Linked DNA regions of Homo sapiens: all the other regions are linked to region 1. The links come from fine-mapping of genetic effects on gene expression. A gene starts in region 1. Each other region holds a variant in brackets. All regions are shown on one strand. Distances are from middle to middle.

Evidence for each region. PIP is the estimated chance that this variant, and not a neighbour inherited with it, causes the effect.
Region 2: its variant is fine-mapped to the expression of TUBAL3 in hypothalamus (GTEx, PIP above 0.99).
Region 3: its variant is fine-mapped to the expression of TUBAL3 in lung (TOPMed, PIP above 0.99).

Annotation. Positions count from the first base shown.
Region 1 is chr10:5,402,158-5,407,793 of GRCh38, reverse strand. It overlaps TUBAL3 (tubulin alpha like 3), which reads left to right and starts at 2,966. Exons shown (of 4, transcript NM_024803.3): 1 at 2,966-3,004. The coding sequence starts at 3,002.
Region 2 is chr10:5,291,117-5,296,437 of GRCh38, reverse strand. No RefSeq gene overlaps it. Among named protein-coding and RNA genes, the nearest start is that of LINC02561, 23 kb to the right of the region's middle. RefSeq lists an enhancer at 4,052-5,251. The variant G/C (reference allele first, on the strand shown) is at 2,421.
Region 3 is chr10:5,477,209-5,482,844 of GRCh38, reverse strand. No RefSeq gene overlaps it. Among named protein-coding and RNA genes, the nearest start is that of CALML5, 20 kb to the left of the region's middle. RefSeq lists an enhancer at 2,674-2,723 and a cis regulatory region at 2,577-3,405. The variant T/G (reference allele first, on the strand shown) is at 2,147.

The DNA of each region.
Region 1 (5,636 bases):
TGCAATGGCGTGACCTTGGTTCACTGTAACCTCCGCCTCCAGGGTTCAAGTGATTCTCCTGCTTCAGCCTCCAGAGTAGCTGGTATTACAGGTGCCTGCCACCACACCCGGCTAATTTTTTGTATTTTTAGTAGAGATGGGGTTTCACCACATTGGCCAGGCTGGTCTTGAACTCCTGACCTCAGGTGATCTGCCCACCTTGGCCTCCCAAAGTGCTGCGATTACAGGCATGAGCCACTGTGCCTGGCCAAGAAAGGAACTTTGAACAAGGACATCGTAACTATAAATACCACACTTTTATCACTCTGCCATTTTTTCACCCTCAGAACCTAAGGGTGGCCACCAAGTATGTCAGAGTCAGTATTGTGTGTGTGATTTATTTTAAGGAATAAGTTAGTGTGATTGTGGGGCTGTAAAGTCTGGAATCAGTAGGGCAGGCTGGCAGACTGGCAGGCTGGAAACTCCTGAGTAACAGCTAAAGCTGAAACTAAAGGTGCCATCCTTAGGAGAAATTTCTTCCTCAGAGAAATCTCCATTTTACTCTTATGGTCTTTCAACTGATTGGATGAGGCCCACTCACATTATTGAGGATGATGTCCTTTACTTAAAGTCAAAGTTTACTGGAGATGTTCACCACACCTCCACAATGCCTGCACAGCAATACCCAGACTAGTGTTAGATTGGATAACTGGGTGCCACAGCCTAGCCAAGTTGACACAAAAACTATCACCCCAGAAGGCCTCTTCAGACGTGAAATTCCAATTATTATCACTTGAGGAAACTTTTTTCTTTAAGACTTAGTCTTTCAAAGAAATAAGGAATTACTAAAAGATAAGATGCATTTCTTAAATTATACTACAAAAGAGATTTTTCTAGTTTCTTTCTAATTCCTACGTAAATCTAAGTTAATCATAGCTCCATGTCAGACTGACAATTTTTAAAAGTTAATGAAAGATACTGAGTACATCAGTGGACTAGAAATGAGATACTCACATTATCTGATTTTTCCCTCATCTTGTTTCAAACTGAAAATATCTGGGACCAGTGGGAGAAAATTTGATACAGCAACAAAATAAATATCATTCTGATTTTATAAAATGGAACTGGCTTAATTTTTCTTTTCATTATATGGAACTACCAGGATGCTAAACATTTGGGGAGTTATTGACAGAGACAGATAGGATTGACTTTATGAAGATCAAAATGAGAGAAAGTATAATTTATAATAAGTTCAGGAGAAAATTGCTGAAGAACACTATGGTTTCTTCATTTTCTCAAAGTTGTAAGGAAGAATTGGTAGAAACCAAGATTCTTGAGTAACAGAAATTTTGTTTTGATTACTGAATAATAAAATTGTTACTATGCTAACAAAACATGTCATTAATTCAAAAGAAGATCAGGAAGAAAAGAGAACTTAGAAAATGGAGACAAACAGAAAGCACAAAATAAAATAGTACTCTATATCTAAACCCAACTATATTAGTTATTATATTAAATGTAATGAGCTGAATTCTCCAATTCAAATACAAAAATAGAAAAAAAATTCAGTTATATCATGCATACAAAGAACACATCCAAAATATGAGAATATGGAAAGGTTTTAAGTTTCTAAGAATGTAAAACGATGGGAAAATACATCATTCAAATGTGAACCAAAAAACTGTATTAAAGTAGTAATATTAATATTTGATCATAAAAACTTTAAGGTAGGCCAAGGCGGGCAGATCACGAGGTCAGGAGATCAAGACCAGCCTGGCCAACATGGTGAAACCCTGTCTCTATCAAAAATACAAAAAAATTAGCTAGGAATAGTGGCACACACCTGTAATCCCAGCTACTTGAGAGGCTGAGGCAGAAGAATCGCTTGAACCTGGGAGGTGGAGGTTGCAGTGAGTTGAGATCGCACCATTGCACTCCAACCTGGACGACAGAGCAAGACTGCATCTCAAAAAAAAAAAAAAAAAAACTTTAAGGTAAAAATAATTAATGTATATAAGGAGGGTAATTTAAAAATAAAAAATTGTTAAAGTTTTTGAAAATATAATAATTTAAAATTTATGTGCTCTTCATAACATGGCCTCAAAATGTATAAAGGAAAAATTGACAGAAAAAGAAATAATGGGTAAATTCACAATTATAATGAAAACTTTTAATACATCTTTTGAAATAATTGATACGTAAAATTTGGACTACACAATAAATCCATTTGATTTAATAGATTGATTGATTGAATGATCGGTCTATCTAAAATATTGCATCCAACAAATGTAGAATGCACATTCTTTTCAACACTCATGGAATATTTTCAAAAATTGACCATATAGTAGAATATAAAGGAAGCTTTAGCAAATATATAAGGAGAGAACTCAGTTAAGATGTGTGATCTGATCTTAGTGCAATTAATAAAAAATAATAACATAAGTATATATTATGTATAATAATATAAAAGTTCAAAAGACAATAATAATAAAAACAGAAAATTCCCATATGTTTGGATGTGGTAGTGGTTGAGAGGCATGCATAGGACACAGATGTAAAAAGGACACTGTCTTGGTTTGCTGTATGTATTCAGGGATTGTTTAAATTTATTTAAGAAGATATTCACATAGTACTCATGCAATAGAAAAAGCTACTTTGCTGTTGCAGAAAATTTTACTCATACTCCTTCCTTTTCTCTGCCAATGCTAAATAAATTCTTAACCCAAAAGGGTGATTTTTAAAAGACACATGTTCTTTTCAACATAGTTATAAGTTGGACGCAGATTTGGATAAGCTCTCAGTAGTTCATCTGCAGCTGTGTACAAACTTTATCCCGGGTTGTTCAGGCCCAACACAGCTACTCTGAGACCAGATAACTAAAAAAACTAAAAAGAAGCTATACTGCTTTAAGTGAAGAAAGCTCCAGCCCTCAGGTGGAGTCATTTCCGGGCCCTGTGATAAAGCTCAGCTGGGAGGCTCCTCAGTCATTACTACAGGGCAGGAAGGGCACGTTCTCATCAGCATGGTAAGTGACTACACGCCTATGCATTGTTGTAGGAAATTTTACTAATCATATTTGGCCCTTTTCCCACAGCAAACAATTCTTAATAAAATTGTAATGCAAGAGAAGACATTTGTAAAGAAACATTTGTTTCTTTCAATGTCCAAGTAGATGAGTTGGGAGCAGATGTGGACAGGCTGTAATCTATTCCTCTGTAATGTTGCTTCTTTCAAGGTAAAGCTCAGTTGATTTGCAGTAGCTCACTGCCATTAATTGAAGCACTGAAGCAAAAACCTTTCCTTCCTTTAGTTTTCACCTTTGTTTTAGGCCCAGAGTGCTGATTTTTCTGTAGATATTCATTGCTTCACTTTTCGTTAGGCTGTTAAGAGTTTCTGAGGACTTCAGACTTAGGTAACCGTGGCTAACCTCATAAATGCCTGGCAGGGTAAAGTGCGCAGACATCTTCTTTGCCCTCCCTTGAGTTTAGTTCTTTGGGCACCACAATGAATAGAATAACTTACAATAATTCTGTTTTGGGATGACCTTTTCAGATCCATTTGCCCTTTATTTTTTTCTGTGCCAGTTTTTCAGTATCTTTGAATTTTTAATTCTTCAATGGAAGCAACATTTCGAACTGCTTCTTGATCTTTGATTTCTCACCCCATTGGTCTCTCTGTCCAACATTTAAAAAATTTTAAATTGTTTTGCTTTTAAAAATTATGCCTTTCAACATGAGAGAGACTTGTGATAATAGCATGTTCTGTATCTTATCACTGTCAACATTCTGGGTGTGATTTTGTATTATGGTCTTGCAAGATGTTTCCACTGCGGGAAATGGGTAACGGATGCAAGGGATCTTCCTATGTTATTTCTCACAGCTGCATATCAATCTACAAAGACCTCAAAATTGAAAGTTTAACTGAGAGTTATGCTTTTCTAGTAATTCAAATAATCCTTATAGCAGCGTTTAATAATGTGCTATGACTTATCAGTGTTGACGTTCAGTGGACATTTTATAGTCTTCTACTTTATAGTGTGACTAATATTTTCATAGAGAATTTGGAAAAAAAGGGAGAGGCTAAGAGAAGAATAAGGCAAAGATAGTCTTCTACACCCTTGGACAGAGTTATGTTATAAGCTAAGCTCCTTCAAAGACGAAGGATGCTTGTTAGTCCAGGCTATTCGTGCTGATTTCAAAAAGAACAGCATCACTCTGCTTTCTGAGTCACTTGAACAGACCACGTGAAGAGGAACAATCTTTTTTTTTTTTAATGTTAGTGATTATTTTTACTGTGACTATTATGAACAAATACCACATGTACACCTGAATTTTACTCGTCACTGTAACACAGGACTGGGTGGTAGCCAGTGGAGAAGACAGAGAAATCTACATGTAAACTTTACAAAGTAAGAGGTTTTAATGATGTAGAAACAATGAACGTTCACCCTCTCCTTTTAAAATGTTAACTTAAATTTAAGGAGCCAAGTTTTGATCAGATTACAGCAGCTGATGTATTTGCAGCACTTTAAGTCCGACAGAAGGGGAGAGGAATAAGATTAAGGTTATCTGAAGCCTGATAAGGGGTATTCGAAGCCTGTTTATAACAGAATATGCTGTCTTGAGAGGTGGAATATTAGTTTGTCCTAAATGAAGTGCTTTCTAAATTAGAGAGACTGATAGTTGCACAGAAAATAAACAAGATGGAAGCCCTACTAAGGTAGTGAACTTGAATTGGTCATGAAGCAGAGGGCTGTTATGCCTTGTGAATCACAGAGACAAAGTACAAAGGTTTGATGCCATTGAGCATGAACAGAGTCCAAGTCAGATTGCAGGGGTGTGGCCGACCAGAGCCCTCTCCTTACTTTCCTCTGACTAGTGGTCTGTGTAGACCAGTGGTCCTCAACTTTTTGGCACCAGGAACCAGTTTTGTGGGACACAATTTTTCCATGGAGTCGGCAGTGGGGATGGTTTCTGGATGAAACTGTTCCACCTCAGATCGTCAGGCATTAGTTAGATTCTCATAAGGAGCACACAACCTAGATCCCTTGCATGCGCAGTTCACAATAGGGTTAGTGCCCCTATGAGAATCTAATGCTGCCGCTGATCCGACAGGAGGCAGAGCTCAGTCAGTAATGCTCACTCACCTGCTGCTCACCTCCTTCTGTAAAGCCCAGTTCCTAACAGGGCACAGACTGGTACTGGTCTGTGGCCCGGGGGTTGGGGACCCCTGTGTAGACCACAGGTGAGGGATTGACAGGAGGCCTGAGGTCTTTCAGTAGTTGAATCTCAGGCTTTAGGGCAGTGTAGCCATGAACAAGGGCAGGGCTCCCCTCAGCTTATCTGGTCAAACAGCCCAAAGGGTCCTGATGATGCAGAAGACATGGGGGTCTCATTCTACAAGACCCTCTAAATAGATTTGTTTCAGCACCACAGTCAATCAAACCACACCAATATTAAGAACAGCGATTGCTATCACCTCAGATTTCTTAGAATTTAGCTTTTACTTTCCTTCTCATTTTTTTTCTTTCCTTCTCTTAAAAACGTAGATCATTGTCTGTTTAACAGAATAGTTGTTTGCCTTAAAAAAAAGATGATTTAAAGTGGGATGGGGGAATATGAAGGTGGAAGAAATAGTAAAGTTTAGACAAGAAAATA
Region 2 (5,321 bases), 110 kb after region 1:
ACTCAGGGTGATATGTTATTTTGGTATGCCAACCTGAGGCTCTGCAACAGGAGAAGGAAGCTGGGGAATTAGGTGCTGAATGCCAACTCAACATACAAAACTCAGTTGCATTTCCATACACCAATAACAAATTGGTTGAAAAAGAAGCAATATAATATTCCATGGTGTATATATAACACATTTTCTTTATGCATTCATCTGTTCATCAACACTCAGGTTGGTTCCATATCTTGGCTGCTGTGGAGTGCAGATATCTCTCTGACATACTGATTTCATTTTCTCTGGATACATACCCAGTAGTGGGATTGCTGGATCAAGTGGTAGTTTTATTTTTAGCTTTTTGAGGAACCTCCAACTATTCTTCATAATGGCCATTATTCCTGACTGCTCTTTTGAATGCTGAGTACCTCCTCTTTTCCTGCAGTGCATGCATGTAGAGAACCCAAGGCTGGGAGAGGAGAAAACTTGGGGTGCTGATAGCAGCAAGCTTTTCCGTATTAAAGGGAGCTGTGTTCTCTGAAGTTGGAGTGCCTTCAGCTGTGGCTTATCTCCCTTCAGCAAGCACAGGTCCCATGACATAGATTCTGAGGAAGACCTTGGTGAAGAATGTGGACTCCTAGCTCAGACCAAACTCTGCAACCTTAGCAAAGCTGGATATTCAATCTGTTGCATTCTTCTGATCATGTGTTACAATCTACAAATGGCAGAGCCATTGGCATTCAAACACCTGATGTTTTTCCCTGGTGTAATCCATGCCCCAGAGAGATAGGAAACCCTTCCTTCGTCTTCTTGGTCACAGTTTGGGAAGGTGTTTACCCCTGGGACCAGAGGCTCAAAATTCAGCAAAAAGTACTGATATGGTTTGGATATTTGTGCACTCCAAATCCCATGCAGAAATGTAATCCCCAGTGCTGAAGGCAGGGCCTGGTGGGAGGTGATTGGATCATGGACTGGATCACTCACGAATGGTTCAGCACCATCCCCTTGTGATGAGTTCATTCTCGCTGTGAGTTTCTGGAGATCCGGTTGTGTAAAGTGTGGCATTGTCCCCCCTTGCTCTCTCTTGCTCCTACTCCTGTGGTGTGAGACACGGGCTCCCCCCTTACCTTCCGCTGTCACTGTAAGCTCCCTGTGGCCCTCCCCAGAAGCAGATGCCAGCACCATGCTTCATGTCCAGCCTGCAGACCATGGGCCAATTGAACCCCTTTTCTTTATCAATTACCCAGTCTCGGGTATTCTTTCATCATGATGCAATTGCCCTAGTACCATCACTCCCACGTCCTAGTTTCAAGGAAGGCTGTTGTTTTAGTCCCAGCCCAAGGGAACATGTGAAGATATAGCCTCACAAAATTGAATGTGGAACTCTTGGACTTATTCTTACATGCCTGATTTAAAAAAAAATACTAGGGGCCGGGCGCGGTGGCTCACGCCTGTAATCCCAGCACCTTGGGAGGCTGAGGTGGGCGGATCATGAGATCAGGAGATCGAGACCATCCTGGCTAACACAGTGAAACCCCGTCTTTACTAAAAATACAAAAAAATTAGCCGGGTGTGGTGGCGGGCGCCTGTAGTCCCACCCAGCTACTCGGGAGGCTGAGGCAGGAGAATGGCGTGAACCCAGGAGGCGGAGCTTGCAGTGAGCCGAGATCGCGCCACTGCACTCCAGCCTGGGCGACAGAGCGAGACTCTGTCTCAAACAAACAAACAAACAAACAAACAAAACCTAGGAACAGTTGCACATAAAAGATACTCAGTAAATATTTCTGGAACTGAATTTCAGGTAGGCTATTTAGCCCCACCTATTAATCCTAACCTCTGGCAAAGGTGGCTTTAATCTTGTGAATGCTTAAGAAGCCTTAATGAGATTTAAGAAATTTTCCCAGGAACAAATAAGTTTTTCGTGTTATCCCCCTCAGTGAACACTGCGACACTTACATAACCCAGCATTCCTGCCCCATCAGCCTGAACTACAGAAGAAGGCGGTATTTCATTAACATCCCGTTGAGGATGCGGGGCCAGGGTCAGCCTGATTGACTGACACTCCTGTCTGCTCAGTGCCCCTCCTCCTCCCTCTCCTGCTCTGCTGTAGCCCAGGAGAGCGGCCTCTTCTGCCCTGGGTGCTGCCCTCTCTGCCTGCTGCCTTCCAGCTGGACTTGGCCACTGTGAGGCGCTGCTGAGAGCAGAAAGGGAAGCTGGAGTCCAGGTGCCTTTCTTCCCTTCTCTAGGGGACACAGCAGCAGCTTCCATCCCTCCAGTCGTCCTGGCTGCCTCCCTCAGGCCCTCCATGGCTGCTGCTTCTTCCAGGGACCCCGGGCTCTGCCTCCAGCACTGCTACCTCTGTTTCTCTAGCCTAGGAGGGTAGCGACTTCCTGTGTTTAAAAGCCTCTGGGTTGCTTTATTGTTTCCTGACTGGCTTCTTT[G/C]TAGATACTCCAACCGTCTGATTACACATCCTGTTTAAATAAGCAGCATGGATTTTTATATCCTGGTTCATGACTGATGCTGTTACCTCAAGATGCCCCTGGTGTTCTGAACCTCCTCAGGGCTGCCACCCTGCACCTGTCCACAAGCGGCCACGCGTGAACTCCCCCTGTGGCCACCATGCTGGCCTCCTGTGCTGCTGTGTTCTCTGACTAGAGCATTTGTCACTCAGCTGGGCATAGCTGTACTCTGCTGAGGAAGGCCCTGCTGTTAGTCCCAGCCCTGAGGGGAGGGATGACGAATGCTTTGCTGCTCTGTTTGAGTGCAACATGGGCCTCTCAATTTCCCACTGCAAAAAACAGTGTTGGACGCAATCTTTCATAAGGATTTAGAGATAGTTTGCAGATCACAGAAAATAAGAACAGAGCACAGAAAAACTTAAAAAAAAAAAAAACCCCACTGTGCCTATGCTTAGAACTCAATTTCATTCATTCCGCAAATATTTATTGAGCACTGACCACATACTAGGGAGCTTTTCTAGGTGTGGTGATTAGTGTTGGAGAAATCAGTCAATAAATATGAAAACATACCACAAAATAAGTGAATAATTCAGGCAATTGCTCTGGTCACAATTGTTCTGAAGGAACTAAAACTGAGGAGTAAGATGGAGAGACACAGTGGGGACTGGGGAGCTACTTTGATTAGAATGACACAGGGACAAAGACATCACCAAGAAGGTGAGACTGAAGCCAGAAACCAATGATGAGACAGAGGGGGTGATCGAGGCTCTGGAAAACCTCTGCACAGGTAGGTACGAGTCTCTATGTGATGCCCACATTTTCCTAGAGAAGAACTTGACAAGGACATGTCCATCTTGTTGCAGGGGCAGGGAGTGAGTCTCAGGAGATCTCAATTGAGTCTGTACCTTTGCTTGGGATGCAGGACCTGGGAGAGGTAGCCCAGAGCAGCATGAAGGCCTTGGCTGGGGTGGGGCAGGCCTGGGAGTGAGGGGCAGTGAGCAGCCCCAGAACACTATGACCCTGCTGCTATGGCCTCCCTTTGCCCTGTGCAATGAATGGAATCTTTACATCCCCACCAAAGTCGTATATGAAGCCTTAACCCCCAAGGTGATGCTATTTGGTGGTGGGTCCTGTGGAGGTGATTAGGTCGTGAGGGTGGAACCCTCATGAATGGGATTAGAGCCCCTCTTAGTCCATTTATTGTTGCTATAAAGGAGGACTTGAAGCTGGGTAATTTATAGAGAAAAGAAGTTTATTCAGCTCACAGTTCTGCTGGCTGGAAGTTTCAGGACTGGGCTTCTGGTGAGGGCCTCAGGCTGCTTCCAAGTGTGGAAGAAGGTGAAGGGGAGCTGGTGTGTGCGGAGATCGTGTGGTGAGACAGGAAGCAGGAAGGAGGGGAGGGGCCAGGTTCTTTTTAACAACTAGCTCTCATGGGAACTAATAGAGTAAGACCTTACCCCCCTCCCCTGGGAGGGCATTCATCTCTTCATGAGGCGTCTACCCCATGGCCCCCAAGCCTCCCATTAGACTCCATCTCCAACAATGGGGATCAAACTTGAACATGGGATTTGGAAGGGACAAATGTCCAAACTATACCAGTGCTTCTGATAAAATAGCCCCCAGAGAGATTGCGTGCCTGTTTCGCCACATGAGGACAGTGAGAGGACAGCTGTCTGTGACACGGGATGCAGGCCCCCGCCAGACCCTGAATCTGCCAGCACCTTGATCTTGGACTTTTAGCTTTCAGATCTGTGAGCTATCTATGTCTTTTGTTTATAACCCTCCCAGTGTACAGTACTTTGTCACAGCAGTCTTAACGAACCAGACTCCCGGTCAGAAGGTGTGGTCTTAACCAGACTTTTCAGAAGGCATTTTGAGAACTCTGAAAGCTGATCTTTTTGGCTCCCTACTTATGTGGGGGTGGTAAAAGAGGGGTAAGGTGTGTTTCCCCAGAGAGTCGGGCAGCATTTCTCTTTGTTGCTTGACAATGGATTCCCATTTATTCAGAGAGGATTATATGGGTGTGTCTTAGTCTGTTTCCTGTTGTGTAACAGAATAGCCGAGACTGAGTGACTCATAAAAAACAGAAAGTTGTTTGGCTCAGTCTTGGAGTCTTGAAAGTCCCAGATCACAGGCCCCACATCTGGTGAGGACATTTGTGCTGTGTCATCCCATGGCAGAAGGCAGGGGGCACGAGCGCAGGGGTAAGAGGATGAGAGACAAGAGAGGGCTGAAATGACTTTTGCAATAAACCCACTCTCACGATAATGGACCCGTTTTCGCAATAATAAGGTCAGTGCTTCATGACAGCAGGGCCGTTATGACCTAGTGACCTCTTAGAGGGCACGTCTTTACACTGTTGCACTGGGGATTATACTTTCAACACATGGACTTTGGGGGACACATTCAAACCACAGCAAGGTATTTGGCATTTTATCGCCATGCAATGTTAACATTTCTCTCATAACCCTGGGTTAGCCTTTCCTCGTGAATTGCAGCATCCTTGCTGAACTCTTGTTCTGTATGGTTAAATCTCCTATCAGAGTTTTGGGGCTGTATCCAACTCTTTGTAGTTTTGCTGTAAATAATGACTTTTCTTTCTGTCCAGCAAAATGTTTTAAAACAAGATGATACTTGATATGGAATGGCTCAAACATCCTTTATTCCTCTGATAAATAACTCACTTGGTGTGAATAATTCAGGCAATTGCTCTGATCACAATTGTTCTGAAGAAACTAAAACTGAGGAGTGAGATGGAGAGACACAGTAGGGACTGGGGAGCTACTTCAATGAGAGTGACACAGGGACAAAGACATCACCAAGAAGGTGGGAAGAAATTCTTTATCCCCTCATCATCCTATCTGGTGGTCCCCACTAGAGAAA
Region 3 (5,636 bases), 75 kb before region 1:
AATTTAGGATAAAATGTTTGGGAAGAAATAAGCAAAAGTTGAGGATATGTTGCTGTCATTTGTGATGTTGGCATGAATATCATGGTGGGTCTCATTTTGAGTCCCTTTAAAAGCCACTTTGTTATTTTTATGCTTCTGATACTTAGATTCCCAGAGAAATAGTCATCTACTGTATTTTAGAAAGTAGAGTGGAAATTTATCTTAAACTACAGAGGAGAAAAAGGTCAAACTTCAGTATTTTGAGTTAAATGTACACATTCATTCAGTAAATGTGTTTGGATAACTGTTGCGAAGGCTCTGATGATGTGATATGAACAGGACAGAAATGGTCTCTGTCCATGCAGAACTTACCGTTCACTGGTGAGGGGGCCGTGGGTTGAAGGGGGTCTCCAAAAGGGTATGTCCAGGCTCTAACACCCAGTCATGTGAATGGGCCCTTATTTAGAAATAGGGTCTTTGCAGATGTAATTAAGGATCTCGAGGGGAGATCAGCTGGATTTAGGGTGGGCCGGAAATCCACTGACTGTTGTCCTAAGAGAAGGGGACACAAACACAGAGACCCAGAGACCGCGGTCATGTGAAGACGGAGGCAGAGACTGCACGGAGGGGTCCTGGCTGCCCTGGATGATCAGAGAGATGTGGAGGGATTCTCCCTCAGGGCCCTGCCTGTTGCAGGTGGTTAATCAGGCACCAGCCGGGCAGCAGAGGGCTCCCCTGCCACCCACCAGGAATGTCAGGGGATCATCGGGTGAGAGTTCAGCAGTTATCCCACCGCCTATCTAAAAACAATCATTGATCACAGGCTCCAGGGAGAGGTGATTCCCCAAACAGATAAAAAGTCTCGAGATGTGTAATCGGCTTCCAACAAAGTCTCAGAAATGGGGCGAGTAGGCTCGGGGATGGGCATTAAGAGACAAAACGGAGGAGTACGGCCTTTGAGGGCACTCCACTGGAAAAGGGAAGAAAGTCTCAGGGAGGGACACCCACCACTTCCTAAACTCAGGGCTCGGTGTTGGCCTCCCGGGGCTGAGGAGGGCACCGCGTGTGCAGGCGGCCCACCCTGAGGGAAAAAGCACGGAAGAGGAACGGGACCCCGGAAGGATGCCAATGTTTCCAGCCCCAAATCCAAAGGTCAAAGGCTGCACTCGTCCTTCCAGGGGTCCGCTTGGGTCTCTTCCAGTTGTTCTTCCCTTTGTTTCCTGCTCCAGAGCTTTTTAATAAACTTCCACCGCTGCTCTGAAATTTGCCTTGGTCTCTTTTTCTGCCGTATGCCCCTCTGTTGAATCCTTTCTTCTGAGGAGGCAAGAATTGAGGTTTTTGCCGACTTGCCAGTAACTCGGATATTTGCCACCCCTAACATTCCCACACCTGTGGCTCAGACTTCTGGCCCCCAGAACTGAGAAACGACACATTTCTGCTGTTTCAGGCCACCCAGTCTTGGTACCTTGCTACATAGTTGTAGGAAACCAACACAAGGGGGTAAAAAAGGGCCAGACATGTTGTTACAAGTGCATGTCCTGAGGAGAAGCACGCTGGTGCCTGTGGCGTCCTCACCGCAGAGCGACCTGCAATGAGTCCGCCGCTGCCCAGGTCTCCTCCCGTGTCCTGGATCAACACAAATTAGGAAAATGAAATGAGTGGTTACACAGCAACTGTGTTTGGTAGAAAGACATTTCAGGAACACGGGATCCTTGGCCGGAAGAGAGTTGGGAGCCGTGCACCAGATGTTCTGAGAGCCCCTCCAGCCGTGAGGACGGAGCCCACCAGATGTTCTGAGAGCCCCTCCAGCCGTGAGGACGGAGCCCACCAGATGTTCTGAGAGCCCCTCCAGCCGTGAGGACGGAGCCCACCAGATGTTCTGAGAGCCCCTCCAGCCGTGAGGACGGAGCCCCCAGGCCTCAGGGGGCGAAACGTGAGGCCCTGAAGCAAGAGCTGGGGAGTGGGGCCGGCCACGGGTTCATCTTGAGCCCAGCCCTGCTGACAGCTTCTGAGTAAGAACGGGAGATGGGGCCTCCTGTTCTGCGTGGCCTCTCAGAAAGTCCGAGAAGGATCTCAGCACAGGAGAAGCTTCATCCCTTGGTGTCCTTGGGGCTGTCACTCATGACCTGCCACCCCAGGGTTGGATAGGGTGGGTGGAGATGGGAGG[T/G]GATGACCTCGGGGCCCTCCAGGGAGGGGAAGGCAGGAGGGGTCAGCCCAACCACTGCCAGGAGGGGAAGCCTCAGGACCGCCCTGTGAGGCGGGAGGGCCTTCACCAGACTGACTCTGCCCTTCCCACTGAGGGGCTCAGATCAGCTTCATGAGTGGCAGTGGACAGCTGAGCTACTGAGTTCTAGAAGGCACCGGGCATTGGTGGGGCAGAGCCTCACGTGGACCCACGTGGGGAAAGAAGCAGAGGCTCCGTCACGGGGAGTTGTCGTGACCTTGAACTTGGCATCATCTTTGAAGAAGCTGAAGGGAAAGAAGGAATGACAGGTACGAGAGGGGGTCAAAGTGTTTTGTGCGTGTTTGAATTGGAAACACGTGCCTGGGTTCCATGTTGGGCAGAGCCTCTTGGACATGGTTTTCTCATTTGCAAAATGGAGACAGGGACACTTCTTCCTCTGCTTTATCACGCAGTCCTGGGTCAGGGCCACTCTGGGCCTGGTGGAGTGTGGTGCAGGTGCCGTGGCAGGGGACAGCTGTGGTTGGTGGAGTGTGGTGCAGGCACCATGGCAGGGGACAGCTGTGGTTGGTGGAGTGTGGTGCAGGCGCCGTGGCAGGAGACAGCAGTGGTTGGGGTAGTGCTGTGCACATGCCGTGGCAGGGGACAGCTGTGGTTGGTGGAGTGTGGTGCAGACACAGTGGCAGGGGACAGCCGTGGCTGCACCTGTGTCTTCGCAGGACAGGTCCCTGTGAGTGGGGCACTCATCTCCCGCCCATCAGGGCCCTGGGCTTCGGGGCCTGGGGCCCCGAGAAGATGGGCTGTTTTTATTTCTGTAGCTTCGGGTGGAGGCTGCCTAGTCTACCCAGGCCACTCGGCTTCCTTCTCTGGGTTTTCCATGAGGCAGAGGGGATTTCCTATCAGGAACCACCGTGGTATCTGTCAGGGCCTGTGGGGAGGGATGTTGGAAACAGAGCCCCTTATCTCTCCCAAAACACAACCCTGGTGCCTTGCTGTGGGCGGGCGCTGGAAAATAAAAAGTCTTTTTAAGCAGGTACTTTTAGACCAGAGGATTGTATTTGTGGGTGTGTTGTAATTATCACGGGGAAGTAGCTAAGGCATCTGGGGAGGAGAGGGGAGAAAGAAACAGAAGAATAGTGAAAATAGTAGCTTTGAAATGGACCACAGAGATCTCCAAGGGTTTGCCAGAATTTTGCTATGTGCCACTGATGGTGTCTGAGGGATTTCAGGGCTTGTGAGGGAAACAGAAAAGGAGACAGCAGACCCTTCTCAGAGCCAGAGAGGCCCAGGCAGCGCTTACTGACATTATTTTGTTTTCCGTATATACTTATTATCATTTCCTTCTATATAAAGCAAAGGAAGCTGGTTTTCCATTTAGAATAATCACATAAAGTGTTCATTTAAATTACGTTCACTAAAGACAGAAACTGTAGATTTGAAACTATTGAGTAGATAATGAATGAAAAAGTGCAAAACTGTGGCAGTGGCACAAAATTAGTGGGCCTGTGGGAACGCGATGTAATCCCAGCCTCTCATGTTCCTGGAGAAGAGGCCAAGACCACGGCGGGGGGCTCAGCCAGGGGCCTCCAGGAGAGAAGGACGCAGTGCAGCCAGGGTGTGAGGGGGCTGGAGGAGACGGACAGAGACATAGGCCTCAGAGGAGAATCGCGAGGGTACAGAAAGGGACCTTAACCGACCCAGACGCTCTCATGGATGGCTCTTGCCCAGCTCCAGGGGAGCCGAGGCCATAGACAGTTGCAGGTGGAGGGAGAGAGGCCCTCGGCGGCCTAGCTCTGGTCCTGCAGGCCAGGCGGCCCCCCTGCCCTGGCTCCTCAACACCTCCTGGTGAGGAGGCTCCCCTGGGAGAGGACACAGCACCGCTTACCTCCCACCCCTTGATCAAGTCCCGGGGACAGCCCCCAACCCATGCCAGAGGCAAAAACCTGGCCCCAGCCACAAAACGGACTTTCTGAAGATACAGCTTCCAAATCTTGTGATTCATTTTGCTAGAGGTTTTCAAAAATTCTTTGAGGCCTCAAAACTGCTTTTGCTTATCAAGAAAAGAGCGGGGGCCATGTTTTGTCCATGACCCATAGATTTCCAGCCTACCCAAAGGGAGGCAGAGGAGCAGGGAGACTAGAAGAGGTGGGTGCCGTCTGTCCTGAGGTAAGGAAAGAAGAGAGAGCACTCAGTGGCCTTGTGGTCTAGGACAGCTGGAGAACGGAGATAAACTTAAACAAGTCCAGGAGGAATTCAGGGTAGATGCCCAGGAAGGTCATGTGGTAAACCTGCGTGGGCTCTGCAGGGGCTTGGACTAAGTCACTTCTGGAAGCCCCTTTATGCCCCAGAAGTCTCTCTAGACAGAAGTCTCATGTGGGGGTGCAGGAAGGCAAGTGATTTTCCCAAGGCTGGTCCTTTCTCTCTGCATCTTACTGCCCGGGTATGCTTCCTGCATACAGAGGCCAGGAGCGTAGCGGCTGAGAGGTGACTCTGGCTCTGGTGGAGCCCTCTCTGCAGAGACTGCAGCAAGGACTGGCCCCCAGGGCGGGGCGGCGGAGGCCCTGCCCAGGCCCAGGGCAGGGGGTAGCTGAGTTTAGGGGTCCCCTGGGGACCACCAGGTGATACCTGCAGAAGATCACAGAGCCTCACAGGTTGGGACTTGAACCTGGGACTTTGGTGAGGTGCACGAGCTCCCCAGAGGGGTCCAAAGGACAGATGGACAAGGGAGCAATGACTGTCCTTAGAGACTAAGGATCCTCAGATGGCAGGACTCGCTCACTGGACAGTTTTCCAGGCCTGTGCTTAGCTGAGTAAATTAACACGTCTAAGGACAGAGCGTCTCTTTGTCAATGGGGCACGTGGATGAGGGGGTACCTGAGATACGGACGTGGGAGAGGGAGAGCCTGCAGGCAGCCGCGCACGCCAGTGTGCAGGGAGATGGCATCTTGGCTTAAATATTTCAGTCCCAGCAGCTGATACCTTCTCTCATGGTGTTAGCTGAGCAGCTGAGAAACTTTTCTTAAATCCGTGTAAATTCCTTTCATTTTGGTTATGCTATTTACCATTTCCATGGACTTCAAACATTTCAGCAGTGAAACACTTAAAAAAAATCAGGTCACATGAGAAGGACCCAGAGAGAAGTGGTTATGGGTTAGTATAAATTCATTTTGCTAGAGGTTTTCAAAAATTCTGAGTATGAATTTATTCCTAAATTCAGATCTGGAACACGGACTTAAGATGAGCAGCCTCCCGGCCTTTCCTGGGAGAACTGCTCAGCACAGTTAAGTCAGTTAATCCCCATGACTTCACCCCGTGGGTGTCGGAGCTGGATCACAGCCGCTCTGAGCAGAGCACTGGGGTTGCAGCTTCTGACTGGGGGCTGATATTTGAAGCCCCCATTTGCTATCTCTGTCCACGGCACCTTGACATGTAATCCTCATGTCTCCATCCCAGTCACTTGGTGAGGGACTGGGGT